Linked DNA regions of Homo sapiens: all the other regions are linked to region 2. Evidence: fine-mapped expression QTL. A gene starts in region 2. Each other region holds a variant in brackets. All regions are shown on one strand. Distances are between the middles of the regions.

The links.
Region 1: its variant is fine-mapped to the expression of RCL1 in sun-exposed skin (GTEx, PIP 0.97).
Region 3: its variant is fine-mapped to the expression of RCL1 in tibial nerve (GTEx, PIP above 0.99).

The regions. Positions count from the first base shown.
Region 1 is chr9:4,830,550-4,841,517 of GRCh38, reverse strand. It overlaps RCL1 (RNA terminal phosphate cyclase like 1), which reads right to left. Exons shown (of 9, transcript NM_005772.5): 4 at 8,290-8,364; 5 at 7,253-7,377; 6 at 161-286. Among named protein-coding and RNA genes, the nearest start is that of MIR101-2, 14 kb to the left of the region's middle. RefSeq lists an enhancer at 7,995-8,289. The variant C/A (reference allele first, on the strand shown) is at 4,870.
Region 2 is chr9:4,786,418-4,797,385 of GRCh38, reverse strand. It overlaps RCL1 (RNA terminal phosphate cyclase like 1), which reads right to left and starts at 4,442. Exons shown (of 9, transcript NM_005772.5): 1 at 4,159-4,442. The coding sequence starts at 4,294. RefSeq lists enhancers at 3,692-4,191, 4,266-4,315, 5,136-5,185 and a silencer at 4,396-4,755.
Region 3 is chr9:4,845,663-4,856,630 of GRCh38, reverse strand. RCL1 (RNA terminal phosphate cyclase like 1) reads right to left here. Exons shown (of 9, transcript NM_005772.5): 8 at 7,081-7,184. MIR101-2 (microRNA 101-2) reads right to left here and starts at 6,334; the gene lies at 6,256-6,334. It overlaps LOC124902113 (a long non-coding RNA gene), which reads right to left and starts at 6,264. Exons shown (of 2, transcript XR_007061402.1): 1 at 3,369-6,264; 2 at 1-2,817. The variant T/G (reference allele first, on the strand shown) is at 5,623.

The DNA.
Region 1 (10,968 bases), 44 kb before region 2:
GAAATGCCTGTTGGTGACAACGGCAATAAGGCAGAAAGAAATTAATTCTGAAATTGTTCTTCCTCTGGCTGCGCAACCTCAGAGCTGGCAGTTTTAACTTCAACTAGAACAGGCATGTGAAAAAGCTGCAGAAACAGACTTCAAAAACACAGATACTTACTTCCCAGAGTTGACTCCTTTCATGTGATCTGTGTAAATATAGATATCAGGTATGAACTTGTTGAGGATGCTCCTTGCAGAATCCACAATCCGGTTCGCCATCTGAGGTGACACACGTACAGAGTACCTGCAGCCTGGAGTTAAGGATGTCATTCTGCTTGAATTCCAGGACAGAGAAAAATCAGTTATAAAGCTGGCAAGTATTTGTGGAACTGTAGTAACAAACTGGGACTTCCAAATCTATTGTTTTCCAACTGAATTTACTGAATTAGTACCATAATTAAATTTTTTTCATTATTATAAAAGGTCATGGCAAAAACACCCAAACAATAGAGACAGTGGAAAGTATAAAGCTGGAGGTCCTCAACCCCACCCCCTGACTTCCTACCCACACGCTTCCCCTAGAAATGGTTCAAGTCAATTTTGGAAGGTGTAAAGACACCTGCCTCTCTGCGGGTCATGATCCAGGCTCCCTCTGAAGCACAACACCTAAGAACACTTTCTATTCTCTGTCCATTCCCACTGCTGTAGCCAATGAGTCTCTCTCTTAAGAACCTAAGCCCAGAACAGACACCACACAGGACCTGGGCGATCCCAATCTGACTCCTGGTATGCTGATGGGAGAAGCAGAAAAAGTTCAGTGAAAGAACATGGTTGCTGCTATTTATAAATATATAAAAAGGTTTTTCTCATTTACAGGGCCTATTTTCTACTATTTAAGAATTAATTACTCCACTTGTGGATAACACAGCCTCCTCACACCTGCTACCTTATGGTTAAAATATTGATAATTAGCACTCCTACAATAGGGCACCCCAGAAAAGAAAGGAGGAAGATATTAGTAACTCAAGTGAAAAGATTGGTGCTTGAGGAAATGGAAATTATTGCCTAAAACTAGACTTTATAACAGAAGCTGGCATTCCCCAACCACACATGTCAAAGAAAAAGTAAGTATGTATTGAGCACTTCAATGTGCAATGTATGGTCAAGAGATGGCTATATATTTGGAACTAAAAAAATGGAGAAATAACATGTGACCTTCCCACTACCCTGATACAAACCCCACGTGACAAGTCCAACAGGTAGAACGAGGTATATAATCTGCCCAATCCAGCCCAATGTTCAAGAACTGCTGACAATAACATATTTAATTTTCATCTGAACTGCAGAAACAAAGTGCTCAGAGACGATACATGACCTGATCTGGTATCTAGCTCCCTTTTTTGACCCATCCTGAACTTCATACTAAAAGACCAATCTTCCTCATGCTGGTGACAGTCTCTCGGTGGCTCCTGGTCCTCCCATATCTTGTTGTTAGAGCCCCCAGCCTGCTCAGTTGTGTCCATCTTCAGCTCTGCACCATCAACTCCTTCCACCCATCCAAACTGACCAAATTCCTCAACCTGAGCTGCTTTGCCCCATTCTCCCAGCCCGAGGTCCCAATCTCTCTCCTGAAACCCTCCAGCCGGCACCCAAGTGTTAGCTCCACTTGAACTTACCATACATCTCTCTTCACATATGCACATTTTGTTCTTGCTCTTCAATGAGACCACACACTCTATAAGGGCAAGGGCTTTACCTCTGTAATCCCTCCCAACTCTCCAATACACCACTTTTGTACTCAGAAATGCTCAATAAATATTTAACTTGACTCAAAGGACAAACCTGAAATGAGGAAAGAGCAAAGAGGGATTTTTCAATACACACACAGCCCAGTTACATCACCATCTCTTCAGTCCAGAATGTACTTTTGACCACAGACAGCTTAGACAAACAGTCCTGAATCTCATACCCTTTGGACCAAGCAGGTGCTGTCCTTCTGAGGTCTGAGGCTGCCCACTGTCCCCAGGAAAGCACAAGAGATGTCACCATCCTAGCACATAATCCCACAGAGCTCACGGCTCCCAAAGTTCTTTCACATCTATTATCACCTTACTTTATGCTCACAGTAACCCTGTGTTGAGGGCCATGGCTCCGAGTTCTAGGACTTACATTAAAGACAACTAAGACAAAAAAACTAAGACACTTGCTCAAAATTAAACAGATCTGACTCCCAAAAAGCATCTTCCTCCTCTCACCCATCCCAATACAAAAACACGAAGGTTAACAAACAGTACGAATTCAGGGCCTACAGAATCCTATACTAGAACTCAGGCAATGAAATGAAGAAGGCAAAGGAACTTTAAAGCCAGTTGCTTAGAACCATCTGGCTTGGCATGGATGTCCTACTAAGGAATGGCTAACAGCCCCCAAGTTCTAGAATCAGATTATCTCCGTTCAAGTCCAAGCTCCAGCAAGCTGCATCACTCCAGGTTAATTGTGGTAACTTCTCTGTGCTGTCATTTCCTAATCAGTAAAAGAAGGATAATCATAACACTTTCCTCACAGAGTTTGGAGGCACAAATGAAATAAAATGCATGTAAAGCTCTTAATGCCTAGTGTGTAGTAGGAGCCCAACAAATGTCAGCTATTGCTTTTCTTTATTACTTATCCAAGATTCAAATCCCAAGCAGAGGTTCTTATTCTTTCAAGAATCAGAGAACTCTCTGAGAATCTGATGAAAGCTATGGACCCTCTCCTGAGAAACATATATACTCACAATCTTGCAGAAAATTTTTCAGGTTTATGAACCTCCTAAAGCCCATTTATGAAAACCATATTAAGAACCAATACCAATGTACAAGTCCATAGCTACAGTCCATATGGGACTCCCACTCTTCCCCTTCCCCAATGTTCCATGTCAGAGAAAGCTAAGAGGGGTGTGTGTGTGTATGTTACAGTAGGTGGAGAGAGAGCTTGATTCTCAAAGTACCTTTCCTACAGTCAAGGAAAAGAAACTAGATTATCCCACGAATTCCAACTTATCCCCCTTTACTGCCAGCTTTTTCACTTAATTCTCATGTACCAAATCATGAGCTCCTAGGACAGCACTGCAAAACTAAAACAGAATGTTCCTTTCTCTTACGCCCCACATAAGGCAGGGGTGAGAAAGAGTGGGTGGCATTAAGTAAAAGGTAACTACTGTGTAGTCACAGCTGCTGGCAGGAACCAACACCAGCTCCCTCTGGGCCCTGGCTGGTAGGTCATCTTGTAGAACGCAAGAGGGAAAAGATGCACTTTGGAAGTAATTCAGTTAAAACCACAAATGCACACAAGAGAGTGGGCCTCTTTCTCCCAGTCTGAGCCCTCCCATGGGAAATACAACCTCCAAGCTTAGTCCAGTAGTCAACCAGCCTTGCAAGGAAAAAAACCACAAAACCAACTCAAGCTTTTTCCAAAGGCAGCTCTTTTTTCCCAGGCTCCAAAACTGGAGAAGAGGGCGATCTCCATTCAAACCAACATTCCTTTGAGGTGTTTGTGAAATGGGCAGCTCTGCAGAGCAGTGGCTGAAATGTTTGGTTAACAGACAGGGATCTGAGAAAGGGCACTGTGTCAACTCTCCTGGGGAGCCAGGAGGAAGCCTCAACCAGTCAGAGATATATTGGGGATGATTTCCATGTCCTATCCCCTGCCTCCAGGGAGGGAGGAACTTGGGACCTCACAAGTCTCTTCCTGGCTCAGATTCTACACAGGGAAGGTTCCAAGAACATTAGAGGGAGAAGCCAGGGAGGAACATAGTTACACCCAAGGTGCCCGGCACTACAGCTCTTTTAACTTTTATGTTCTCCCCTGGAAAGCCCTTCCCCATTTCCCAGCATCATCATCAAAGGACACGACCATCTGCACACCCAGAGAGAACAAGGGGGACCCCACTGTGATGAAACCCATGTTGTTATGACAAGATTGTGTCAAAACAGAGCACACTGCCAGAAATCACATTTCCAGACTACAGAGACTGGATTCCAAACAAAGTTCACGGCCGCCAATACAGCATTAAGGAAACACATCTCAAATAAGGAGGAAAAAAAACAACTACCCCCCAGACAAACCCAAAATAGTACTGAAAGTGTATTCCTGTACACTTATTGGAATGTATTGGAAAGTGTATTCCTATACACTTATTACACTTTTTTTCACCATTGCCAAAAATGTTGTGGTTAAAGCCATTAACCGCAGTGTATTTGGCAACAGTGAAAAGCAAAAAACAACTCAATGGCCATCAACAGGATTTGATTTTGGGTTCTATATATGGTGGAATACAATGCATCTGTTAATAAGAATGAATTCAAGTAGAAAAGGCACATTTGGTTTCAAAAACACACACCTAGTTACATTGCATTTCCATTTCTTTGTAACCTAATTAACCTTATTCCAGCTCCTCGGATTTGGATACTAGAGTTGAATATCACCTTAGAAAGTCACCTGGGCAATGTAACTATGCATCAACCTGGGGGCTCCTAGGAAAGGAACCATTTCTCCTTTTGCCTGTTCTCTCCTGGTACACACAAGGCTGGGCGCTTACATGGGCTGGGGGACAGCCATGCAGAGAACAGACCATAACCCAGGAAGGCTTTGTTATTATGTATTCCTGTGGTTTTGATGATCCTTAAAAAGAACTTCAGGCAGCAACCCAAGTTTGAGCTTCTATCTTAACCAGCACTCTCTCTGCACATGGCTCTGCAGCCCACCCTACTCCCTGCCCTTCACCACTTACTGTTCAAGCTATTCGAGGCCTCTGAAAAGACAGTCCACGCTACACCTTTCTTCCTCCAAGTAATACCATTGCCAAACCTCCTGAGAACACAAAACCCGACCTTAAGCACCCACCCC[C/A]GCCCTGACAAGCAGGCTTTCTGGTCTGCCCTCCTTGTCACACTCCCGCCAGGAAAGTCATCCCACAGCCTGTCTTGCTCTACGGCCTCCAACACCTGCTCCCACCCAGATCCTGTCAGCACCTAGAATTTTACCACTTTTAATATCTGAAATCCCAAAACAAAACTCCCTAAACACAATCTCTTGTCCTACACAGTACATGTATCTATTTCCACTAGATCTGATCTTTAAGCCTGTTAAAGTTTCTCATCCCTTGACCTGCTTTGTCCAGGCTGGTGAGCCCCTGTGACAATCCTCAGTGAGGAATGTACTTCCCAATGCTCCAGCACCCACCCTCCAACTGTCCTCCTGTAGGACCCACCCACCTTGCCAACCTGCATCCAACCTTGGATGAAATTGGTCCTCCCACGTTCTCTACTCCTCCCTCTAGGCTGCCAACTGCCACTGGATATAGCCACATGGCCATGCAGCTGGCACTGTGTTAACATTACACCTTCAGCAAGGACCTTACTGCTGGAACACAGCCTTTTTCTTATCTTCAGTTATGATGCTCCCCTGTGAAGGCACATCTTTACCATCCTTGTCACACTCTCTTATCCTACCCCGCCCATCCCCTTACCCTCAATCCCATCCTAACTCGGTAACAACTGAAAACTCATCCCAACCCCCTTCCACTCACCTCCACACAGCTCTACCTGGAGCCACCCTTACCGTATGCCTGTGGCCTTGAATCCATCCCCTCTCAAGTAAGAATAAAAAGAATAGTAGTAACCATTTACCCAATGCTACTTACACACCAGTGCCTCCTACTGTGCAACTACGATCTCATTTTACCTTCATGACAGTCTCGCACAGCAGTTATAACAGGACTAAAGATATACGGGCAACCAAGGCTTACGGCCAAATGCTTCCATTGGTAAGTGGCGCAGCCGGCGTCGGCACCCACGTCTTTCTGACTCCAGCACCTGGGCTTTTAATCAGCTCATTACTTTGCTTCATCTACATTAACAACCTACAAAAACACTCAAATCCTTACCAATCTTTTTGTAAAAGGGAGGGAGTCTCCCTGACTCTCGCTTCATCAAGTTACTCCCTCATCCTTCCTTCTCCTTCTCTTTCCTGTCAAGGTTCTGTAAAGAGTGGTCCCCACAAGCCGCTGTTTCCCTCCCCTTCACTCCACAACCCAGAATTAGTCCCTTGGGATAGGGATCCAGCACTCTTCCCCAGGGCATCAGTGACAGCCTGCTGCTGAGTCCCTCAGCTTTTCCCCCACCCCAATGCTAACTCCTCAGGGCCTTTTAAAGTGCTGACCTGAGCTTCCAGGAAGCTATGTTTTGTTTATTCTCTTCCCCACTCTTACTTCCCTCCTTACTTAACTCTTGCTTTCAAGTTTTGGTGGCCTCACAGGGTTCCACCCTCCTTTCTTTGCGTTCTGCATAGTATCTGATTCCAGCCACCTTCAGCTCTTCACTGGCCCCTGCCTGTCTTCATGCCCCATTCTACCATCAAATGCCATAGACCAACCTGAAATCTGGCCACACTTCATTACTTGCCACTCCCTAGAACCACTGTGCACTGCCACCTCTGCTCAGGCCCACTTTTCTGCCTGAAGCCCTCCTCCTTTCTTGCTCTACTTTGCAATCCTCTGTTCTTCAAGGCTCCTTTCTATAGGCAAAAGTAAAAATTAAATGCCTGTACTTTAGAGTCACACAGACCAGGTTCAAATCCTAGCTCTGTCATTATTAGCAGTGTGACATTATTAAGAAATTCCTTAAGCTTTTGAAGCTTCAGTTTCCCCATCTGCAAAAAAGGATGTAAGTGAACTCAAGGGTCAATGTGAGGCTTAAAAGCATGTAAAGTGACTACTGAAGTAGATGCAGAGTAAATACTTAATAGTAGATATCATTCATTATGATTACTCCAGCCTCCCTAGGTCCTCCAGACAAAATTGACCACTGTCTACTCCAGGCCCCCACCCCACTGCACATATCATTTTGCATGTTATATCAGAACTGTGTGTTTTCATATTTGGTTCCTTCACCGAATGATGACGTCTTCTGAGGGAGGAACTGCAGTATATTCATGGCCCCCAAACCAAAGCCCTTGAGAGAGGATCACATACATCAGAGCCATTTGCCTAAATGTTAACCGGAAAATTAAAAAAAAAAAAAAAAAAAGAATGACTCAATCAATCTAGTCATGGTGAGGCAGATAACAGAACATCCTAACTCAGCCAGCAATTACAATTTCACTGTTAAGACTTTTCAAAGTTGTAGTCTAAAATGTAAATAACCTCGGGAAGAAGTAAAGCTGTTAGTCATTCTTATCTTAGTGAGGCAACAACAACAAAAAAAAAAGAAATCCAAATAAATGGAAAGGATACGCCATTCCTCTAATACGTTTGATTTTTCCTGGATCTGTGAGTTGAATGGGCTTCAAGACCTTCCTCACAGGACATGAGAAAACCACTTCGCCTCCTCCTCCGGGAGGCATTCCCCGTCGCACAATCTACACAGAGAGTGAGAAAGATGAGGCGAGGATGCAGCAAAGCAATGGATTACCCTGACACCCTGCCCAGGAAGGTTTACACCAGCAGATGCTTCCTTACAAGGCATAGCTCTTCCATATTCAATCTGTCATTCCCTTCAAGACCAACAGCACCTTATGTTGGCTCCTAGAGAGTACCTGTGCAGCATGTGTCAAAGTCCAAGTCGATTACCCAAGTGGCTCTGCCACTCATCTCTTTAACCCTGAACAGGTCACTTCTTTATCCTTAAAATATAGAGCTGACCTAGTCCATCATCTGAGCCCATTTCTTAATAATCAGAAACCCCTTTTTCTCCTCCCATGCAAATAACGGATCTACCAAAACATTATTAAATAAAAATGAAGTCATTTCCCCTGTTTAAAACATGAATGTAAAAGGCAGAGATGCTAAACGGTTTACCACATTGGATTGATATAATTCAACAAAATACAGATGCTTAAACTACTTCTACTAGATTTTGGAAATACTGAAAATTCTCAGGGACATCCAGGTTGGGAGCCCCTGAACATAAATTATATCCAGATCATTTAGATCAGAGAGCCAATATGGCCCAAATCTATTCTCCACTGCTTGCTAGCTGAGGCACATGGGCGGAGCTGTTGTGAGGAGAAAAGGAGTTAGTATTTGTAAACTGCTTAGAACGGCCCCCACCGCAAAAGAAGTGCAACATCACTGTCAGCTACTATTGTTATTACTAAAGGGTCCCTTTCAGTTCAAAGTCTGTAGTGTTTATTTCATGAGCCCTGTGAGTCTTCTGATAACTGGTGACTTCAAATGTGACACACATACACTGAGTCACACAGCTCTTCCAATGAGTCAGTGGGAAAATGTTTTCCACAGGAACATATGGTCAACAGTTCAAACATTCTTACCTTCAGTTCAAATGATTCACCATCAATCCCAAATTGTTTCAACAAAGGGAGTGCTGTTGCCTTAAGAACATCAACCTATGAAATTATTTCAGAAAAGAAAAGTTTAATTAAGCCTTCAGCAGAATACAAGAGTCAAAAAAAACAAGTAAGGCTTAGCAACCAGGTAGATGATGCAGTGTGGTAAACAGAAAGGATGCTGGCATATAACTGAGCGAGTGGGCTGGCTCTGCCTGAGGAACACTGTGATTTCACAGGCCACTGGGCTTCTCTGAGCCGCACTTTCCTCATTCATGACATGGAGACCAACACCTACCTTAAAGTCATCGTGTGCATCAGAGGCATCATGCAAAAAGCATGGAGAGACTGGACTGTTGTAGAAAACAAATGGAGAACCCTACTTTTTTTTTTTTTTTTTTTTTTTTTGAGTGGAATCTCGCTCTGTCACCAGGCTGGAGTGCAGTGGCGCGATCTAGGCTCACTGCAACCTCTGCCTCCCAGGTTCAAGCGATTCTCCTGCCTCAGCCTCCTGAGTAGCTGGGACTACAGGCATGTGCCACCACGCCCAGCTAATTTTTGTATTTTTAGTAGAGACGGGGTTTCACCATGTTGGCCAGGATGGTCTCAATCTCTTGAACTTGTAATCTGCCACCTCAGCCTCCCAAAGTGCTGGGATAACAGGTGTGAGCCACCACACCCAGCCTGGAGAACCCTACTCATTCTTATAGGTATAAACGTACAGAAGAAAATCATCTTTTTCATTAACATTTGTCCAGTAGGGTTATTTAATGTTTAGAGCCGGTAGCATTCCGAGTCAAAGCAAACCAAATTAACTATTCAACAGCTCACCTAAGAATGCCAATGATGAGCACCACACAGGCAGCTAAAGGGAAGGTGATGATTTTACATGGGAGTTGGGGAGTCGGGGTGATGACAGCCTCAAACTACAGGAAGCAGCACAAACTCAAAACTACAATTAGTTACAACATCCATAGTTAATGGCAAGACTTTGCCACGTGTAACTGTTATCTCCTCCTGCATTCAGAGCTCCCAGGAAGTCTGGGGTCTTTCTGATCCATTTGTGGATTCCTGATAAGAGTAGAAAGATGGCATTCAAATCAGGTACTGTTATCTAACGAGTTGGCAAATGTTGCCTCAACTGCTACATGGGAAAGAAAATTACTCCATTACTTGTTCCCTTCTTGGATCTGTCAGCTGGCAGGGAGGGCAGGCACCACACAGAAGGCATAGGAAAAGCCCTAGTCCTGGTCCCAGCTCTGCTTCTAATTAGCTATGTTGCCTCAGACAAGAAAATCACAACTATCTGAATTTCCTTATCTCTAAGGCAAGGGGCTCAAGCCCAGCCATCTCCAAGTTACAACTAACTCTAACAGGCTAAGAAGCCCCAACTAAATATTGTGATATCAGAAAAATACCAGACTTAGGAATGACCTGTGAGGCCTAAGAACATGCTTAGAATGGATCAGGTGGGGCAGGGGAAACTAGGAAAACCACTGAAGATTAGCTAATTTTAAATATTAAAGCTACAGCCCGAGCAACATAGTGAGACCTCATCTCTACTAAAAAAAAATAAGCTGGGCATGCTGCACGCCTGTGGTCCTAGCTACTTGAGAGGCTGAGGTGGGAGGATCACTTGAGCCCAGGACTTCAAGGCTTTGGTGAGCCACGATCATGCCACTGCACTCCAGCCTGGGAGACAGAGTGAGACCCTCTCTCTAAAAATAAAAAAATAAAGCACACTCAAAAACTTAATATATGCATTTGGCGTTGCCAGATAAAGAAGAATACAGTCGAGGCTTAAGAGCAGCTGGGGAGAAGGCCAAGTCAGATTCTGAAAAAGTAGGGGATGCAATGCTGCAGTTACTCTGGGCAGCCACCGGCTCTCTCGAGGGAAAAAAAGGTGAAAAAACACAGCATTCCTTCTGGCTCATCCTTCCTATACCTTGAGTCACAAAGAGTGAAGCCAAATTTACTTAGTTCAGCAAGAAGCCCAAGGGTAATTCCAGGTGTAGTCCTGTCCCTTTATCACTCTCCATATGACATGGAAGACAGGCAACTTGGTGCGGTGGGACAAGGGCAGGAAAAGCAGATGAGGGCTTGGGACCTACTCTGCCTCTCACTGGCTGTTAGACCCTAGACAATTCCCTGTCTCCTGGGCCTCAGTTTCCTCCTTCGTAAAATGAGAGGCTGGGCCGAACACTCTCCAGTCTCCTGCAGCTTTGCACATTCTAGTTTTAGCAGAGTGATGGTGGCCTGTAAGTTCTGCTTAAGGGAAAGTGATCGGTCCACTCTGCGGTCAGAGAGAAAAGGCAAAGATCAAACCCTAAGTGGCAGCTCAGGGCAAAGGTATTACCATTACAGCGCAGTCAATCAATCAAAAGGTAAAAATGTAATCAATCTATGCTAAAAAAAGAAAAAAGAGAGGAAGAAACCTGCTCTCCAGTTACCTTGTCTGAAACACCCACCTCACTGGGTTGGTAGAAGAATTAAACAGATATGGATATACACATACATACATATGTACACCTAGAATAATGCCCAGTACATGGGAGACATTATTGTACTTCTTTTCCTTCTCTAAGAGGGAACTGGAAAAGAATGGAATCTTCATCCACCATTGGAGCAGCTTGTTGGCACCAACAAATAATTACTGGGAGCTCT
Region 2 (10,968 bases):
TTCTCTTCAAATATCTGAAAAATTTCCATATAGAAGCAGGAACGGATTTGGCATGCCAGGGAGCAGACCTATACCCAGTGGGTTCAAGCTACATAATAATAAAATCAGCTAACATTTATTCTTCCTATGTGCCAGGCACTGTTCAGTACACTTTGAAGTATTATTTCATTTAGTCCTCACAATAACCCTGTGAAGTCAGTAGTACTGGCCCCACTTTACAGGTGAAAAAGTTGAGGCTCAGAAGAGAATAGTTAAAATAATTTGCCCAAGGACCAAGAGCTAATAGCGAAAGGCAGAACTCGTACTCAAACCAAGGTCCAATACTGACCCCAAGCTCTTAATTGCCAAGTATTATGACCATGACAAATTAAGGATTTTACCTCAGTAAAATAAAGAAAATAAAGAACTTTTTGACTTAAAAACTGTTTCTTTCATATGGAGATTTCTCAAAGAACTAAAAATAGAACTACCATATGGCCCAGCAATTCCACTACTGGGTATCTACCCAGAGGAAAAGACATCATTATACAAAAAAGGCACCTGTACTTGTATGTTTATTGCAGCACTATTCACAATACCAAAGTGATGGAACTAACCTAAGTGTCCACCAATGGTTGACTAGATAAAGAAAATGTGGTATATATACACTATGGAATACTACACAGCCATAAAAAAGAATGAAATCAGGCTGGGCATGGTTATTCATGCCTGTAATCCCAGCAATTTGGAAGGCTGAGGCAGGACGACTGCTTGAGTCCAGGAGTTCAAGACCAGCCTCGGCAACATAGACAACACCCCATCTCTACAAAAAAAATTTTAAAAATCAACTAGATGCTGTGGTACACATCTGTAGTTCCAGCTACTCAGGAAGCTAACGTGAGAGGATCACCTGAGCCCAAGAGGTTGAGGCTACAGTGAGCCATGATCACACCACTGCACTCATGACAGAGTGAGACTCTGTCTCAAAAAAAAGAATGAAATAATGTCCTTTGCAACAACATGGAGCTAGAGGCCATTATCCTAAGAGAACTAATTCAGAAACAGAAAATCAAATACTCCATGTTCTTACTTATAAGTGGGAGCTGAACAATGGATACACATGGACTTAAACATGGAAATAACAAACATTGGGGACTGGAAAAGGAGGAAGATTGAGGGAGATTGAAAAATTACCTATTGGGTACGATGTTCACTATTTGGATAATGGGTACACCAGAAGCCCAGTCCCCACCAGTAGGCAATATATCCATGTAACAAACATGCACATGTACCCCCGACTCTAAAATAAAATTTCTTTAAAAAAAGAACTGTTTATTTTGCAAACAATGATTTCCGCAGCCACCATCTCAATCCTATCTGTCCAGATCAGGTCCAGAAAACCTGCCTTCCTTCGTAACTTTCAGGGAAGTGTCTGCTCTGAACTCCACTGAGCCCCTGTACAATACTCAATCCTTCCTACTTCAAGTTACTCAAACTTAGTAACATCCTACTTACATGACAAGCTCCATGAGAACAGGGGCAACCAGCTTCTCACATATATTACACTCACCCCCATACAAAGCCTTGCACATACTGTGGCTCAATAAACACTTTCTAAATAAATGTTCCTGAGGCCGAAAGCCTCCCATACTATCCCTACCCTCCAAAGCCCACACCATGAGGGATGTTTTAAGCAAGCACCTTGAAGAGATGTGATTCTTGCATTAGAACTGAAGATTTTATTGGATATGCTCTGAGTTTTTTCCAACTCTGAGAATCTGAGTTAGGAAAAGTCAGAAAGGGACAGATGACGGGCAACATAGGCTTCCGGCTACATCTTCAATCAAGCTACCAAGGACTCCCTTGATTATGACCAGAAATCATGTGTCAGGGACTACATCTATTTATGCGTGCACGTATATGTATATACACTTACATGTATGTGTATACATATACACATATACATGTATATCTGCAAATGCATATCTATCTCTCTGTTCCCTCTGTAAGAAATTAAGCAGACAGGCTGGGCGCAGCGGCTCACACCTGTAATCCCAGCACTCTGGGAGGCCAAGGCAGGCGGATCACCTGAGGTCAGCAGTTTCATACAGCCTGGCCAACATGGTGAAACCCCATCTCTACTAAAAATACTCTACTAAAAATTAGCTGGGCATGGTGGCAGGCACCTGTAATCCCAGCTACGAGGGAGGCTGAGGCAGGAGAATTGCAGGAACCCAGGAGGCGGAGGTTGCAGTGAGCCGAGATCGCACCACGGCACTCCAGCCTGGGAGACAGAGTAAGACTCTGTCTCAAAAAAAAAGAAAGAAATTAAGCAGACAAACATCTACAAGGTTTCTGAGGCCCTGAAGCCAGCGCAAGGATGTACAAATAACTAGGAGTCTCTTTCTTCCCCTGGTATATGAACGGGGTAAGGCAAATAATGCTCTACAGTAATGTTCCCCATAAAATACCAGCACACCTGCCAAGCAGTTCTACCTCCCTCAGGTATCAGCGTCTGACACCCTTTCAAGAAAGTGCCAAGTGGCCAAGCCCTGTTCTTGGAAGAAACGGGAGCTCATATGTGTGAGATGCTTTGAAGAGATGCTCACATACAGTGGAGGGGGAGAAGGAGAAGCATACTTTGGAACATTAAATATTAAATTGGAGGCCACCTGTCAATAGAAAAACTCTAAATAGAACTAGATTCATTTTAGAGAACCCAGGTTTCCAGGCTATACTTCCATTTCTCTGGAAAAAAAAAAAAAAGTTATGCCTACTTTTATACAAAGTAGAAGTCCATCTTCTTACCATATCCAGCTAGTGGCAAGTTCTCTGAGCTAACCTGAGGGTAAAGTGGATGGAGAGCTGGCTGAGAATGCCACACAGCAATCAAGCAAACACTTTGCCCAAGGGTCAAACTAAGTGGAACACTTGTTGACGGAAAAGTCGTGGCATAAACCATTTGTGGTCTCTCCCTAACTTTCTCAGTGTTTTTGAGCAGTAGAGAGAGGACAGGAACCACCAACACAAGTTTTTCCTACCATCACTAGGTTTCTCACCACTGTACCTGGGATATTCTGCTTCTTTCCTTCCTAACCTATCTCCGTCAATAGCATGGCATCTTCTGCCCTTTATGTGCAGCCAATCACCACCCAAGAGAGGCAGAGATCTAACTATCCAAAAAATGCATTCAGACAGATAAAACAAGAGCCAGTGCAAAATGAAACACATCAGCGCCGCTCAGGAAGCTTCCAGGACCAACCACAAACACTCTTTTTCAATTTACAGACAGGTTTTTTCCTTTTTCACCTGACTACTGACTCGCCCAACTTGGGATAACCACCAGTCAGAAGCTTTTAAATGCATGTATCTCATGCCAGGGGGCCAGGTGTAAACCAAGGCCAGTTGAAAACCGGCGCCATTTAATGAGATGTGGGTTTAAATGGGCCTATTTCTTTTTAACCTACCATTGCAGAGCAAGAAGTGAGCTTGGAAGCCTGCAGTTTAGCGATTGTCACCGACCCCTTTTCTAAAGTCAAGGCAATTAGGCCCATGACTGTTAAAAGTCTATCTCAAAGCTCCTGTCCTGCGCACATCAATCACAGTCACGGCTGAAAACAAACACAGAATTTTAAAAATTTCTTTATCCACACCCAAGGACAAGTGTGAGGGCAGCCGAGAAATCATGGCGACAGGAACAGCCGGTGTCCAAGGGGGCAGCTGCTTCTGAGAACTGCTTTGAGACAGGGCAGAGAACCAACCCAAGGTACTTTTCTCTCCCAATGTCTCTCCCCCGGCTCATTCACCATATTTCGGTCCAACAAACTGTTTTTCTCCTTTGAGAGGTTTATGGCGAGGGCAAGAGGGGCCGAAGGGACGCGAAGGGGCGACGCCAGGGATTTGTTGCTACACGTAAAGCTGGAAAACGTGCAGCTGTTTACTACCAGCGCCCCGGAGACGCCGAGCGCAGCTTGCAGCTGAGCGCTCCCCTCGGGCCCCGACCCCGCCTCCCCCACTGTGCCTGCCCCTCCGGCTTTGGAGGCGACGCGCCACCTGCCCTCCCCGACGCGCTCGCCGGACGCCGAGCCGCCCAACCAACACCGCGCGGGCCCCCACGGCATCAGCTCGGTCTCCCCTCAGCCCCCGCGCCCACGCCGCGCGCCGCCCACACCAAGTTACCTCGGAGGCCCGGGTTGTCGTCTCTGGCCCGAATCTTTCGGATTTTGACGGGGCGCCCGCTCAGGGTAGACAGGACCAGACGTTGGCGCAAGAAGTTGCACCCTGCGTAGCTGAGGGAGTGCGCCTGAGTCGCCATGTGCGCGCTCTCCGAAGAGACGTGAGCAGCCCGAGAGCGGCGACTTCGGACAGACGCGGGACTCGTGACTCCGATGGTGGTGGTGGCGGCGACACCGACGGCGGCGGCTCGGGCTGCCTCCAGCAGCCCAGACGCGTCCACGTGGTTTGGAACAGGAAGACGGAGAGACTAGACACCGGGTCAGAGGGGAGCGGGGCGGAGCCAGTGGCCACCTCCCCGCCTCCCCGCCCGACCGGGGCGGCCCCCGCTTCGGGCCACGCCGCTATTGGCCCGCGCCGGATCAGGGCGGTGCCCGCGCCGCGCCTCCATTGGCTTCCGCTGAAGCTGGGCGGTGCCCAAGCCGCGCTGCCATTGGTCCGTAGTGGAGCTGGGCGGTGCCCGGGCCCTGGCAACAGCGCGCGGCTGGAGGGAACGCGGGAGGATGGCCAGGGAACCCCGGCGCGGGAGTTGCCAGTCGGGGCAGTCTCCTCTGTGTACCTCCTGGCGTGGTAGCAAGGGGAGATGGCGGACTGAGATTGATGCCTACGACGTGCCGGATTCTTAGCATTACTACTTACGGCAACTACTGGGGTGAAGATGCTATTATCTACCCCTCCTCTTTCTTACTAAGAGAGACAACAAGGGTTGGTGCACTCACCCTATCGCAGGGATGCCGCTCAGCGCACTGCCGGCGCAGTCCCGCAGCTCCATGCTGTAACCCTGCAAGGTAGAGCCATCCTGTCCTACTCATGGATAAAGGCTCGAGGAATATTGCAAAGCTGACAGTGGCAGCCTATACTGAGACCCGAATCCTCCCACAGCAGGCCGTTGCTTATTTTATTGAGACACCTCTTTGCCCCTTTCTCACGGGTCCCTTCGTTTATCGTCATTGCGTTTCATGGCAATTCAGGCCCTCCTACCTCGCATGCTTCAAGATAGATAGTTGTAATAACTTCACACACACACACGCGCGCAATGCTTTTTCCCTCTTTCCCGTCCTCCTCCAATCCTGCACAAGAAAATCTTCCCAAACGTTGGATTATTTCACTTCTCTACTCAAAAACCTTCCAAAATGTACAGTTAACTAACAAATGACTACACAAGTAGAAGTCCGATATCATAGTAATGTGGGTTTGTAGCCATTCCTGGACAACACTCACCAAACCATGAGTCCCAGAATGCACGGGGGTTCGCGGGGGGAAGGGGGGCGGGGTATGATAGTGTCTGAAAGCGGTGGGAGTTTAAGATTAAGGGATGTAGCTAGCCTTATGTAGACAACAGTGTGTTATAAAGTGGAGTGGAGTGGCATGCTCATGACTCACTGCAGCCTCAACTTCCCGAGTTCTAGTAATCCTCCAACCTCAGCCTCCCCATTAGCTGGAACTACAGGTGTGCACCACCATGCTCAGCTAATTTTTGTATTTTGTATAGACATGGGTTTTTGCCATGTTACCCAGGCTGGTCTCAAACTTCTAACCTCAAGCGATTGGCCCACCTTGGCCTCACAAGTGTGAGCCACCACTCCCAGCCTTTAATCCATTTTTCTTTGATTTTTGTAAATGGCAAGAGATAGAGATCTAGTTTCACTCTTTTGCATATGGATATCCAATTTTCTCAGCATCATTTATTGAAGAGACTGTCCTTTCCCCAGAGTATGTTCTTGGCAACTTTGTCGAAAATGAGTTTACCGTAGCTGTGTGGATTTATCTCTGCGTTCTCCGCTCTGTTCTACTGATCTATGTGTCTGTTTTTATGCCAGTACCATGCCATTTTGTTTACTCTAGCTCTGTAGTATAATTTGAAGTCAGGTAATGTGATTCCTCCAGTTTTGTTCTTTTTGCTTAGGACAGGTTTGGCTATTCTGGGTCTTTTGTGGTTCCATATAATTTTTTTAATTTTTAATTTTTGTAGGTAGATGGTACATGTATATATGAGGTACGGGAGAAGTTTTGATACAGGCATGCAATGTGTGATAATCACATCCTGAAGGATAGGGTACTCATCCCCTCATGCATTTTATTCTTTGTGTTATTATACAAACAAAACAATTATACTGTTTTAGTTATTTTTAAATGAAAATTAAATTATTGTTGACTACAGACACCTTGTTGTGCTATCAAATAGTAGATCTTATTCTTTCTAATTTTTGTACACATTTATTATCCCCACCTGCCCCCCAACATCCCCACCCCCTCTATGTTTTCCAGTCTCTAGTAACCATCCTTCTACTCTCTATTTCCATGAGTTAAATTGTTTTGATTGTTTGATCCCACAAATAGGTGAGAACATGTGATGTTTTTCTTTCTGTGCCTGGCTTATTTCACTTAACATAATGATCTCCAGTTTCATCCATGTTGTTGCAAATGACAGGATTTCATTCTTTTTTATGGCTGAATAATACTATATTGTGTATATGTATCACATTTTCTTTATCCATTCATCTGTTGATGGACACTTTGACTGTTTTCAAATTTTAGCTATTGTGAAGAGTGCTGCAACAAACATGGGAGTGCAGATATTTCTTTGATATGCTGATTTCCTTTCTTTTGGGTATACACGCAGCAGTGGGATTGCTGAATCATATGGTAGCTCTATTTTTAGTTTTTTGAGGCACCTCCAAACTGTTCTCCATAGTGGTTGCACGAATTTACATTCCCACCAACAGTGTACAAGGGTTCCATTTTCTCCACATCCTCACCAGTATTTGTTATCGCCTGTCTTTTGAATATAAGCCATCTTAACTGGGATGAGATGATATCTCAAAATGAGTAGTTTGCAGATATGTTTTCTCACTCTTTGGGTTGTCTCTTCAGTTTGTTGATTGTTTCCTTTGCTGTGCAGAAGCTTTTTAACTTGATATGATCCCATTTTTGCTTTGGTTGCGTATGCTTGTGGGTTATTAATCAAGAAATTTTTGCCTAACCAATGTCCTAGAGATTTTCCCCAATATTTTCTGTAGCCATTTCATAGTTTGAGGTCTTAGATATAAGTCTTTAATCCATTTTGATTTGGTTTTTGTACACGGCAAGAGAAAGCAGTCTAGTTTTACTCTTCTGCATATGGATATCCAGGTCTCCCAGCACCATTTATTGAAGAGATTGTTTTTTCCCCAGTGTATGTTATTGGCACCTTTATTGAAAATGAGTTCACTGTAGGGTTATAGATTTGTTTTTGGGTTCTCTATTCTGTTCCACTGGTCCATTTGTCTGTTTTTATGCGAGTACCATGCCATTTTGGTTACTATAGTATTTTTTTTTAATTTTTCTTTTTTTTTTTTTTTTTTTTTGAGACAGAGTCTCACTCTGTCACCCAGGCTGGAGTGCAGTGGCATGATCTCAGCTCACTGCAACCTCCACCTCCTACGTTCAAGCGATTCTCATGTTTCAGCCTTCTGAGTAGCTGAGATTACAGGCATGCACCAACACATCCAGCTAATTGTAGTATAATTTGAAATCAGGTAATGTGATTCCTCCAGTTTTGTTCTTTTTCTTAGGATAGCTTTGGCTATTCTGGGTCTTTTGTGGTTTTATATAAATTTTAGGATTTTTTTTCTATATCTGTGAAGAATATTATTGGTATTTTAATAGAGACTGCTTTGGGTAGTATGGATATTTTACCAATGTTGATTCTTCCAACCTGTCAACATAAAATACCTTACTATTTTTTGTGGCCTCTTCAAAATCTTACATCAATATTTTATAGTTATCATTGTAGAGATCTTTCACTTCTTAAGTTCATTTCTAGGTATTTTATTTTCTTTTTAGCTATTGTAAATGGGATCACTTTCTTGATTTCTTTTTTGGATTGTTCATTGTTGGCATAGAGAAATACTACTGATTTTTGTGTGTTAATTTTGTATCCTGCAAATTTACTGAATTTGTTTATTAGTTCTAATATTTATTTGGTGGACTTTGGGTTTTTCTAAATATAAAATTATATCATCTAAAAACAAGGAAAATTTTTTCTTCTTTCTTTCCCCTCCCTCCCTCCCGTCCTTCCTTCCTTCCTTCCTTTTCTTTCTTTTCTTTCTTTCTTTTTTCTTTCCCCCCGCCTTTTTTTTTTTTTTTTTTTTTGAGACAGGATCTCACTCGGTCACCCAGGCTGGAGTGCAGTGGCATGATCATGGCTCACTGAAGCCTCAACGCCCCAGGCCCAAGTGATCCTCCCACTTCAGCCTCCCTGGTAGCTGGGACTACAGGCATGTACAGGCATGCTCCATCACACTCAGCTAATTTTTTAATTTTTTTGTAGAGATGATATTTCACTGTGTTGCCCATGCTTGTCTCAAAGCAATCTGCCTGCCTCGGCCTCCCAAAGTTCCGAGATTACAGGCATGAGCCACCCACACCCAAGGGTAATTAAATTTCTTCATTTCCTATTTGAATCCCCTTTATTTCTTTCGCTTGTCCAATTGCTGTAGCTGCAAACTTCCAGTACTATGTTGAATAAGAGTGGTGAAAGTGGGAATCCTTGTCATGTTCTGATCAAAGAAGAAAGGTGGCCAGTGTGGTGGCTCACACTTGTAATCCTAGCACTTTGGGAGGCTAAGGCGGGCAGATCACCTAAGGCTAGGAGTTTGAGACCAGCTTGGCCAACACGGTGAAACTCCATTTGGGTGTGGTAGCATGCACCTGTAATCCCAGCTACTGGTGAGGCTGAGACATGAGAATTGTTTGCATCTGGGAGGCAGAGGTTGCAGCGAGCTGAGATCGCACCACTGTACTCCAGGCTAGGTGACAGAGCAAGACTGTGTCTCAAAAAAAAAAAAAAAGATGAAAGGCTTTCAGTTTTTCCCCATTCAGTATGATATTAGCTGTGGGTATATCATATGTGGCTTTTATTATATTGAGGGATGTCTTTCTATACTCAGTATTGTTAGGGCTTTTATGAGGAAGCGATACTGGATTTTATCAAGTGCTTTTTCAGCATCAATTGAAATGATCATTTGATCATTTTTGTCCTTCATTCTCTTGCTATGATGTATTACATTACTTAATTTGCATATGTTGAACCACCCTTGCATCCCTGGGATGAATCACACTTGGTCATGATGAATGATCTTTTTAATGTGTTGTTGAATTCAGTTTCATTGAGAATTTTTGGATCAGTATTCATCAGAAACATTGGCTTGAAGTTTGCTTTATTTGATGTGTCTTTGTCTGTTTTTGGTATCAGGGTAGTACTGATCTCATAGAATGAGTTTGGAAGTATTCCCTTCTTCTCTATTTTTTGGAATAGTGTAAGTAGAATTGGTATTAGTTCTTCTTTAAATGTTTGGTAGAATTCAGCAGCAAAACCATCAGGTCCTGGGCTTTACTTTGCTGGGAGAGTGTTTATTAATTCTATATCATTACTTGTTATTGATTTGTTCAGCAGTGAAACCATCAGGTCCTGGGCTTTACTTTGCTGGGAGACTTTTTATTAGTTCTATATCACTACTTCTTATTGATTTGTTCAGGTTTTGCATTTCTTCATAGTTCAGTTTTGGTAGGGTGTATGTGTCCAAGAATTTATCCCTTTCTTTTAGATTTTTCAATTTGTTGGTATATAGTCACTCATCATAGCCACTAATGATGCTTTGAATTTCTGCAGTGTCAGTGGTAATGTCTCTTTTTTCATCTCTAATTTTATTTATTTGTGTCTTCTCTCTCTTTTTTAGTTAGTCTAGATAAAGGTTTGTCAATTTTGTTTATGTTTTCAAAACACCAACTTTTTGTTTTCTTGATCTTTTGTTTGTTTTCTTCATTTCAAATTCATTTATTTCTGCTCTGATCTTTATTATTTCTTTTTTCTACTAATTTTGGGTTTGGTTTGCTCTTTCTTTTCTAGTTCTTTAATATGCATCATTAGGTTGTTTCTTTGAAATATTTTTTCTTTTTTTGATGTAGGCACTTATAGCTATAAATTTCCCTGTTAGTACTGGGTTTGCTGTATCCCATAGGTTTCGATATGTTGCATGTCTACTATCATTTGTTTCAAGAAAATTTTCTATTTCTTAACTTCCTCACTGACCCACTGGTCATTCAGGAGCATACTGTTTTATTTCCATGTGTTTCCAAAATTCCTCATTACTGATTTCTAGTTATATGGCATTGTGGTCAGAGAAAATGCTTGATGTTATTTCAGTGTTTTTCAGAATGTTTTAAGACTTGTTTTGTAACCTAACAAATGGTCTGTCTTTGAGAATGGTCCATTGGCTGAGGAAAAGAATGTATATTCTGTAGATACTGTATGAAATACTGTGTAAATACCTATTACGTCCATTGGGTCTATAGTGCAGTTTGATGTTTTTTTGTTGATTCTATGTCTGGAAGAGCTGTCCAATGCTGAAAGTGGGGTAAGTCTCCAGCTACTATTGTATTGGACCTCTTACTGTATTAGTCTGTTCTCATGCTGCTAATAAAGACATACCTGAGACTGGATAATTTATAAAGAAAAAGAGGCTAGCCAGGCGCGGTGACTCATGCCTCTAATTCTAGCACTTTGGGAGTCCGAGGCAGGTGGATCACAAGGTCAGGAGTTCGAGACCAGCCTGGCCAACACAGAGAAACCCCATCTCTACTAAAACTACAAAAATTGGTCAGGCATGGTGGTGCGCACCTATAATCCCAGCTACTCAGGAGGCTGCGGCATGAGAATCGCTTGAACCCGGGAGGTGCAGTTTGCAGTGAGCCAAGATTGCACCACTGCACTCC
Region 3 (10,968 bases), 59 kb before region 2:
TCCATAGCATTCTCTGCTCATGGTGTCTAATTAAATGCTTATGTATCACTGTCCCCTTCCCCATCATTAAATTATTTAAGTACCTCAACAGCAATGCTTTTCTCCAACACTGAACCCGTTATTCAAACAAGGTACTGTATAAGGTTCTCAGTAAAGAGGCACTGAATAGAATTTAGCCTCAGTAAAGAGGCTCTTCTCCATCACTGAACCCGTTATTCAAACAAGGCACTGTAAAGGTTCTCAGTAAAGAGGCACTGGATAGAATTTAGGAGTTGGGGTAATTTTGAGAAACAATTTTCAACATTCTTGGCAATTAAGGGAAGTCAGCTTTCCCTGCTGGCTTTCCTGTCTTACTAACCAATTAAATTTCTGTTGTCGTTGTTGCTTTCTATCCATCCCACCATCTCCCCCATCCTGTCCTAGGGAAAAAAGAAAACACAGCAAACCACAGATAAACAGTCCACATCTGTGGGCAAAGCTTCCAGCTGGCGGCAACCTGGAAAAAGCCAGCCATCTCACCCACTCTGCATCTGAAGGAGAAAACAGATTGGTCTCTCCTTTGCTGCTGCCTCAAACTAACACAGGCCTGGGGCATGCTCTGCTCCCAGGATGTCACCCAGCCTACTTCACTCTGAATCACTCAACTGTGCTTGAAAAACCAGACACCCTCCCCAGCTGGCAGAATTTCTACGGGCCCTCAGCTTGCTTCTGATCTCTTGGAGAAGGATGGGAGGAACACAGGCTCAAGTGTGCAGGCCTGTGTATTTGCAAGTTTGGGGTATTTGTAGCCTTTGGAACAGTTAGAAAAAGCAAAGTTAGTTCCACTTTTTACATAATGTTCTGCCAACTCCTCAGCCTGTCCAAGGAAGACTGTGTAAGAGACTAGATTAAGGTACATTTCAGAATCTTTCCCCCACCTCTAGCCCCATTCTCCCTATGTCTCTGGCAGCTGGGATATTGAAGAGCAAAAATGCTCACAACCTGAAAAAAAACCACAGACAATATTAAATCCCAGCAAACAGCCTCCTTAAGAAAACGAAAAGCAAATGAAGAGTAAGCTCGTCCTGTATCTACATGCACTTGAACAAAGTCTTGTCCAGTGCTGATCCACGTCCTGCTCCACAGCCCAACAGCTCTCCACAGCAGCAGCTGCACTGAGGCACCGCCTCTTGAGTTCATATTTCCCTGCCCCTCTCTTCCACAGCACTACACTGGAGATTCACACTTCCTAGACACAACCACACAGCCACACACCCAGGGCAAAGAGACCCACCGCTCACCGAGAGCAGCTCTGCCCCTCAATGAGTAACCACCCACACAGCGCAAATAGCAGCTTTTCAGAAGAACCATTCTAGGCAGTAGGGGCTCTATGCAACTCCTGTGTAAAGGATTTTAACACCTAACATAGAGAATGATTATCTGCAGTGAGGCTTTTTTTTTCCCCGGGACAAAATGATTTTCAGAAAACAAAAAGCAACTGACTTTTCTACGAAAGCCTCTAGTCCATCTGACAAGCAGGTTTCAGAGAATTCTGGAGCACAGAGATAACTTTTCCTATTTTTTTTTTTTTTTTTTTTTGAGACGGAGTCTTGCTCTGTCACCCAGGCTGGGGTGCAATGGTGCGATCTCAGCTAACTGCAACCTCTGCCTCCCAGGTTCAAGTGATTCTCCTGCCTCAGCCTCCCGAGTAGCTGGGATTAGAGACATGTGCCACCACGCCCGGCTAATTTTGTATTTTTAGTAGAGACGGGGTTTCACATGTTGGCCAGGCTGGTCTTGAACTCCTGACCTCGTGATCTACCCGCCTCGGCCTCCCAAAGTGCTGGGATTACAGGTGTGAGCCACCGCACCCGGCCTTCCTATGTATTTTCAAAAGGTGAGTTGTTCCCACTGCCACTGCTGGTCAACAGGAAAGGCCATGAGGCTTGTGGTCATGGGTCCGTTGAATCCCAACTGACCAGGATTTGACAGGCTGCCAGATCCCACCCTTAAACACAGCCCCTCCCACCAGACCCCTCTTTTGAAGCATGTGAGAGATTGGGGTGAAGGCAATCATGGGGTGAGCCCTCTCTCTGGCAGCCCCCACAGGCACAAACCACAACAGAGGGTCCTGCGTCCTCCTCCACTAAGCCACCTGGTTACTATGCCACTGGATATGGGACAGAGCTGGGGGTACCTACATCTCAGGTGTAAGGACATGCTCTGGAAGTTGAGGGAAAAGATCTGGAGATAAGAAAAGGATCTGCTCAATGGAGTCCCTATAGTCATTACATGGCAGCTTTTAAATATACTGCTGATGCTTTTTCTGCTGAATAGAGGCTTTTCCAAAGACAAGCTGACCTCTGCTCCAAATGAAATTACTACATTCAGTTACTGAGGCAGCAGGAAACAGAGAACTAGGCTAGCTGCACTGTCAGGAGATGGGGTCCCAGGCCCAGTTCAGACAGGATCTCACCATAAGCAGGTCAGTGACCTCTTTTTTATCTGAGAAGGAAGGCTATCACTTGCTTTTACCATACACCAATTATGTTCTAGGGCTCAAACATCAGGTGACAGGGCTTTACAGAATTTAAACGCTTCACAAAACTAAGACATAGTGGTACTGTGCAAGCTCATGGAATGCAGTGAGGCCACTGACCCCAAGTAGAGGCAGGCTTGGCCGGCAGTTCCCAGTTTCCCCACTGGTTTCCTCATTGGTTCTTCAGAGGGCTGAGCTTTAGGCTGAGTGGGCTAGGAAGCCCCACTCAGTTGGTGTTTAACAAGGACAGTGTCCTCTAGCTCCTCAGCACTTCCACAGTCATGGAAAAAGGTCATTAACTAAAGTTAGAAAAAAAAAAGTCACGGTTTATTTTAGATTTCCAACTAAAGATAGAAAGAGATCATTTTACAGCAGAATTTGAAACGAGGACTTTGCTGAAAAGATGTAGCATGGCATCCTGCCTCAGGCAAGGTGCTTGGAGTCCAGCGATATGGATGGAATCCCAGCTCTTACATAAGAGCACAATGGGTTGGCCGGGCACGGTGGCTCACGTCTGTAATCCCAGCACTTTGGGAGGCCGAAGCATGTGGATCACCAGGTCAGGAGATCGAGATCATCCTGGCTAACACGATGAAACCCCGTCTCTACTAAAAATACAAAAAATTAGCCGGGCATGGTGGCGGGCGCCTGTAGTCCCAGCTACTCAGGAGGCTGAGGCAGGAGAATGGCACGAACCTGGGAGGTAGAGCTTGCAGTGAGCTGAGATCGCGCCACTGCACTCAGCCTGGGCGACAGAGGAGACTCCGTCTCAAAAAAAAAAAAAAAAAGAGCACAGTGGGTAAGGGAAGCAGTGACTGGAGGAGACTGTCCAGGTCTGAACCCCACTTACTGTCTGTGTGACCCTGGGCACGTAACTTGACCTCGCTGTGCCTCAATCCCATCACCTGTAAGACGGTGCACATGATAGTACTTGCCTTTTTTGCCCTTATGAAGTTATGATGAAAACCAGATAAGTTATTATGTCTGAGTGCTTAAAACAACATCTTGCACACAGTAAACACGGTGTTGTTTAAATAAACATCTACCTTACAGAATTCTTAGGATCAATAAGATGTGTGTAGTTTGCTCAGTAATGTGACTAGGGGAAGTCAGTCATAAAAATAATAACTAGAAATTAAAATTTTTTAATCCATAATTTAAAATTAATGGATATAGATTTATAGGTAGCTGGGCAGACCACTTACAGATGACTTAAACCCTAAAATCACCCAAAGCAAGTTTACTAGGCCTCCTGGGGTTCAAAGTGACCTGACCGGGCTACTCTAGCCACACTGCCTCTGGGGTAGTCCTGCTCCTCAAGGAGCAGTTAAAAAAAAAAAAAAGTGACCTGACCAAGGGACTGGACTGCAGCAGGGTGAAGGGGTGTCCAGGCAGGAACCACAGCACCCAGCACTGACAGCTCCTCAGGCACGTTGCCAGGAGCACTAAGCATCTGACTTAATCTAAGCTTCGTTCCATCTCCACAAGTCCAGGACTTCAGGACCACGCACCTTATCTACAAATGACACCAAGGCTCCAAGATGCTAAATACCATTTCCACGGTCTCCTGGTAGCGCGTGGTAGAGCCTTAAGTCCAGATAGGCTGGACTCCAAGACTTGTGCACTGGCAGAATGCAGAGAGCTCTGGTAACTGCAGTCTCATTCCACAAATAATTTCTGAAAGTGCTAATTAAGATGCATCTTAATTTTTGCTATTTTTCTTGCTGTTAATCCAAAAGTATAAATCCTCCCTCCCTAAACTGTAAAATTAAGCTTGTTGAATGGAGGGTGCAACTACTGTCACTAACTGTAAGCCACCTAAAACTCAACAAATTTAACAGAAATAGAATCTTCATATACCAGTGATTATCCAACAGTATTTTATTCTACTGAAAAAAAATCTCTTGGGCCTTTCTAAAAGAGTTTCACATTGGCCGGACTTGGTGGCTCAGGCCTGCAATCCCAGCACTTTGGGAGGCCAAGGCGGGTGGACCACGAGGTCAGGAGATCGAGACCATCCTGGCTAACATGGTGAAACCCCGTCTCTACTAAAAATACAAAAAATTAGCCAGGCACGGTGGCGGGTGCCTGTAGTCCCAGCTACTCGGGAGGCTGAGGTAGGAGAATGGCGTTGAACCCGGGAGGCGGAGCTTGCAGTGGGCGGAGATTGCGCCTCTGCCCTCTAGCCTGGGCGACAGAGCGAAACTCTGTCTCAAAAAAAAAAAAAGAGTTTCACACATACAGACTTACTTTCTCAAGTAGCACAGAAAACCACCAACAGCAATCCCAATGCTCTTTACATAGACATTTAAAAAGCTGTTTTATACACACGAAAAACAGGTCCAAACTGCTTGAAGAAATGCTTTTTTTTTTTTAAACCAAGGAAGGTCTTGCTTCTGGTTTTCTTTAGAAATCTGAGGTTTCACAAAACAGGTTTCTATGACTTTAACTACACATAAAAATAAATGTGTTAGTTTGGTCTCCAAAGCTCTTGAATCCATTAGAATAAACTATTCCCCCACCATGATGGTCCTCACCGTGGATTTCATCCCTTTTTTATCCTCAACTGTACTCACAAATACAATGTTAACTTTGCCTGCTGCATCCTGCCTTTGCCCTTCATCTCTTTGTGCTGCTGGAGCTGTCCATAGTGATTAGGGGCAGAAAGAGTATGAAACAGATCCAGCTTTCTTGAAAATAGACTCCCTTACCTGTCTTTATGCTAGCTTACCAAAAAGAACGGAGGCTTCCCTTTCCCACCCTGGCAGACCCGTCTGCACAAAGCTCTGGGAGGCAGCAGAATATCTCTAAGCCCCAGCCTCAAGATACATCATCTTACAATTTGTGCTACTCCTTTAAAGCTCCATTCAGAGCAGGACACTGTTTTCACAGGAGAGGAAGTCATTTTATGCAAGTTTTCTGGAAGAAAAGACACTACAATTAATGTTTGGTGAGAAGATGTGTTGAAGAGGACACAGGAACTTTCAAAAATGTCCAGTCATATCTTGAGCATCTCTGCAAAGCTTGAAAACATCATACAGGTCCTGGAGCCAAATTGAAAAATCTCCAAAAGCAAAAGAAAAAAAGTGTCACGAAAAAAAACA[T/G]ATATGTATTCCATTTTCACAGAATGTTCTGCCAAACCCCATGCCCCAGGACCACACACATTCAAGACAACACCCCATACCTCATACCGTGTGTGCAAGCAGGACTTCCCCAGGCCTGAAGCAAGGGCTGGGAAACGGCAGCTACGAGCCCAGCTACAAAGCCGGTGGGGCCACAGTGGCCACACAGCTGGCAGCCGCCTCCAGTGAGCTCTCTACAGGAAGCGAGTCTCTGTACCTAGGGTGCCATTCTTCCAGCCCTCATCTCCTCTCCAAGTACTTAACTACCAAGTCTATTTTAGCATTGTTTACTACTGATGTTACCACGCCATTTAGGATTACTCAATTTTAGGTATCCTGTCCTACGAAATACTTTTACACAAGCTATCAGGAGATAATGTGGTCCTTACCAGTTTCCTGCTTATCAGTCTTCCCTCTCTGCTAACAGAATGTATTCTCTTCCATTTTCCTGTTCTAAAAAAACCTCCCACCACGAATTCCAAAAAAAAAAAAAAAAAGAAAAAAAAAAGCCTCCATAAGAATTTATTTCAAGCTCCTGGTTTTCATGCCCCCAACGCCATGGCCCAAGGGTGCATAGCCCCACCGCAGTCCTCAACCCTTTCTCAATGTGATGGCACCACCATTCTTCAGTTATCACAGTACTGTACCTTTCAGATATACAGCATCGGTACCATGATAACCGAAAAAGGACAGTTCAGTCTCATATCTACCTGAATATTCCCTGCCACCCAGCTCACCAACCTCAGATGGGCCATATGATGATCTCCAAGTATGCAAGCACGTGAAAACACACACACACAATGTCAGTACTCAAATAGGCTGTTTTCCGCAACCTCATTTACTATCAATAGGAAATGCTTCTTTCACAGTGTCATTTATAATTCAAGTCTTCTGACACTGTTCTTTTTGAAGAGTGCTTGCTTTTACACCACAGCAGTCAACTTCTGCTAACATTCAACAATCCAAACTCACTTCTACAATTCCCTACTAGTCCAGTAGCATTAATACAAACTCTGTCTTTTGTCATCTTTCCCAGTGAGCTCATATCCTATCATCTTAGACAAAAAGCCTGTTTTCCCACAGCAAGTTAGACAGCTAAGGAAAAGAATGATTAAAAAAAAACTAGTAATAAAATCCAAGCTACACCAAACCAGGAGTTTACCTCTAACCTGGAAACAAAATCTAAAGCACGAACAAAATAACTGCCCAATAGAGATCATGCAATTTCAGTTACCTGGGATTAAGGAAGGAAAGAAATGCAAAAATCCTTGTATGTAAAAATAAACACCAGGTTAAGAGTGACAACTGCTGGCTGATTTGAGGATAAACACAAGCAGGTGTTCATAGTGCAGGCTCTGTGCAGCACAACACCCTTTGTCATTTTGGGCAATGAGAAAATTACACTGGACAGAATAACGAGGTTGAAAAAGAATAACTTACGTGTAGGGAGAGAGAGGGCCTAGCAGGACTTTGGAAACATCCTGCTGTCCAAGGGTCATGAGTAGTAGCGCCAGGCTTTGGTTGGTCGAGTCTACGCATCCACCCTGTAAACACAAATTAATAATTGTACAAACCAGAAAATGGAAAGCCAACAAAAGAGAGGAGGAAAAAAAAAACCAGAAACATACACTCATAATATCAAAATCCAAAGTTCAAGCAACAATAAAACAGAATACAGGTCTTATAAGAGTAATCATTGTATCAACTAACTGTAGAGGGTTAAACTAACAGTTAATTAGAGCAACTGTAATAGTTGAGACTATCAGAATGAGACTATCAGATTCAAATCTTCTTAAGTGAATCTAGTAAAAAAAAAAAAAAATGAAACTTTCCCTTTATCATTAAAGCAGCAGCAGGAGGACATCATCTTTATTGAGTATATGCAAAAAAAAAAAAATCTTAATCAGTTCTAGAAGATGTAGAGTTAATTCCAAGGGTTAAGTGGATGACGCTCATATTTATTGAATCTGTCACAGAACAACACAGTCTATCTGACATGAAACGGCCTTTTCATGGCCTTACTTTTACACTTATTCAAATACATTCAGGAAACTGCTTGCCATACTCTATTAACTTCTCTCCTTTATCTCTTCCTGAGTTCCTTAAAACTGAAGACTTGTTAAGGTTAGATCCCTTTATTCTTACTACTTATGTATAAAATTATGCCTTCCACCCCCTTTTCCTTCCCTTTCTTCCAAATTAACAAGCAGAACAGACTTCTCTTCAAACACTTTCTCCTGAGGTACAACTGCTTAGGTTGCCTTTCTTCTTTTGTTTTTCATTTTCTCAGCCATTTTAACTGTTTTGCCTCCACTAGACGCATACATAAGCATACAAACACGCTTTCTGATCATTCTTTCTGGAATAACTTTAAAACATATTGTACATAGTCAAAGAAGGATGACCTTGAATTTCTACATATTTTGCACAGGTCAAAATTAGAAATCCAGTCTGACCAAGGCACGTTACTATCCAAGGCTAGACTGAACAGGATAGGTGGCCAGCAGTGTGGTTCATATGGCTACAACTGCCCCTGCCTCCTTTTTAAGGCATGTAGGGTAGGAAATAAATCCATTTTCAGATACAGACACTCTGAAATTCTCTGGCTGTCAGATATCATTTAGTAGCCCTAATAATGGTGAAGGAAATAAGGATTGATCTTACTGCTAGCCTTTATGAAAATCTATTGCACGTCCCTAAACTACCTTAGTTAATAAAGGACAGAAAACAACATTTAGATCACATAGCAAATTCTAGGACAAGGAGAGTTCCTTTTCCTTTTCTACCCAAAAAGAAAAACCTGACCCATGGAAAATATGACGACCAACAAAACTGTTTTATAGATCTTGCTCCCTTTCATAAGACAGCCTAAAATTAAAGTGTTCTCTTCAGTCTCTGCTTCCTATCACTGTTGTTATTTCACCATTCACTGGACCAGTATTTTAATGTAATAGATAGCTAAGGTCCCTGTACAGGACATCATGGAGGAAGTGGTAGGGGCTATCACCCTACCTATGCTGGGGGGAGGTGTCACCTGCCAGATACCTGAGGAGGGCTTTAGGACTCAGGACTACTTGAGCCAGCCCTTGAGAGATGAGCAGGGTTTGGGGAGGAAGGAAGAACAGAATGATGGGGAAAAATAAAATGCCAGGGCCAGCAAGGAATGGCCAGGTGACCAGCCTGGAAGGCACCACTGCTGCCTGTGGAGAAGCACATACAGCACAGAGAAGGTGGGTAGCCCAATTAAGGCAAGCCTTTCCGAAATGGGTCGAGAATTCTGACTTTGTCCCAGGAAAGTGAGAAGCCAGTGAAGGTCTCTGTGCACATGAGTGAAGAGATCAGATCAGTATTTTAGCCTGAAAAGGATGTTAGGATTTGGAAAGAACTTCTCTGCTAGAAATGCAGAGAGCCAGTGGCCATAATCCAGTTGTGGAGTGGAGCAGGGAGGCAGGCAGTGATTAGAGCAGTGAAAAGGATGGAAAGAAAAGGCAGTTCCAGAAAGCCTGGGACAGAATCAAGAAGGCTTGGTAACCGATGAGGCATAAATGGAACAGGGGGGATTAGATCAGAGGCTTAAAACTTGATAAATAGCACCTTCAAAAGGGATGGATTTTTTACCACTCATTCAATCCATGTCACATCACAACTCTACAGAAAATTATTCAGAAAAACATGAAGTATTTCCATCCTTTTAATAATTAAAGATCATAGACATAAAAAGGAAGTTTTCTGAATAACTAAAAGAAAACGAAAGAAATTTGGTCCAGGCACAATGGAAGACTGAAAGTAGATCTCAACTAAAGAAAAAAAATTGCCAGGCACAGTGGCTCACGTCTGTAATCCCAGCACTTTGGGAGGCCGAGGCGGGTGGAACACCTGAGGTCAGGAGTTCGAGACCAGCCTGACCAACATGGAGAAACCCTATCTCTACTAAAAATACAAAATTAGCCAGGCGTGGTGGCACATGCCTCCAGCTACATGGGAGGCTAAGGCAGGAAGATCACTTGAACCCAGAAGGCAGAGGTTGCAGTGAGCCAAGATCACGTCACTGCACTCCAGCCTGGGAAAGAGTGAGACTCTTCCTCAAAAAAAAAAAGAAAAATATTAAAGAACCTAATTTAAACTGCATGTTTTTCCTCTTGTGGAGTGGTAGGTGCTTTTACCCTGAGGCTTATAGCCTGCTATTTATAGGGATATAAACCCCACACTCTAGCTGTGCCCATAGGCTCCTACTGGACTACTGTATAATGTGATGCTTCTAATTCTCCCAAGGTCTATTAGAAAGACATGGAAGTGTCCCCATAGTTAGAGAGAAGGCCACTACAGGACCAGCCACGGCCAGACACTACAGGACCAGGAAAAGAAATCCTGCACAACAAGAGACCCAGGGAAACACATTGCATGCACTGTTTCCCGCCCCCCTACAAATAAGTAGACCACAAACTTCGTGAATTAAGTAACTGGCAGGGCAACCTCTTGATCATCTACCCCAAACTTTTAGTTACTACCCATTTTTCACAAAATTATTAAATTTAGCATAAAAAAGTAAACTGATTTAGCACCAAAACATCTGAGGCCAGATCGTGACTGCACAAGACTTGTCAAAGAATACCTCCTCCTTCAGGAAGATTTCATCTCCTTCTTCTACTATTTCCCAGGTGAATGCCGAGTAGAGGGGCTGGAGCTACTCTCCTGAAAATAAAACTATAGGTCCACTGTCTTCCATTTTTAATTAGATGGTCATTAAATAGAGCCATTTAGGACCTGGAAATTTAATTAATTCTGAAACAGCTCATTCTCATGTGTTCCATCTTGGACCAATGAGACATTTTCAAGAACACTGACTTGGATCAAGGGAGTAGACTATAAATATAAGCTGTTTTCCACTGTGAGGCTGGTCTGAGGATCAATACCTATGGCTAGTCAGGCTTTACCCTACCACCCTGATTAATAAACTGAACCAGTGGCAAAAGGAAGAATTAAAAGAAAAACTAAATTGCCACTTTACCTGTTTTACTGATTTTATTTAACTTGGCTCAGATGTGATTTTTGCTACCATAAACGAGAAAACTTACTTGGAGACCAGAAAGATGCCTGACAACTGAGAAGAAATACACAGAACAATACAAAGAAAGAAGTCTCTTCAGCTCCTTAGGGGAAGAAGAGAGATGATTTACAAACATTATACACCATACAACAGCAAATCAACTAGAGTATAGTTCTTGCTGATGCTCAGTTCAAGAATCTGGGACCTAACACACAGAGCAGAGAAACGACCATCCTTCAGAGCCTTTCCTGGACTCTGCATGTCAGAGAAAAGGTTTCACC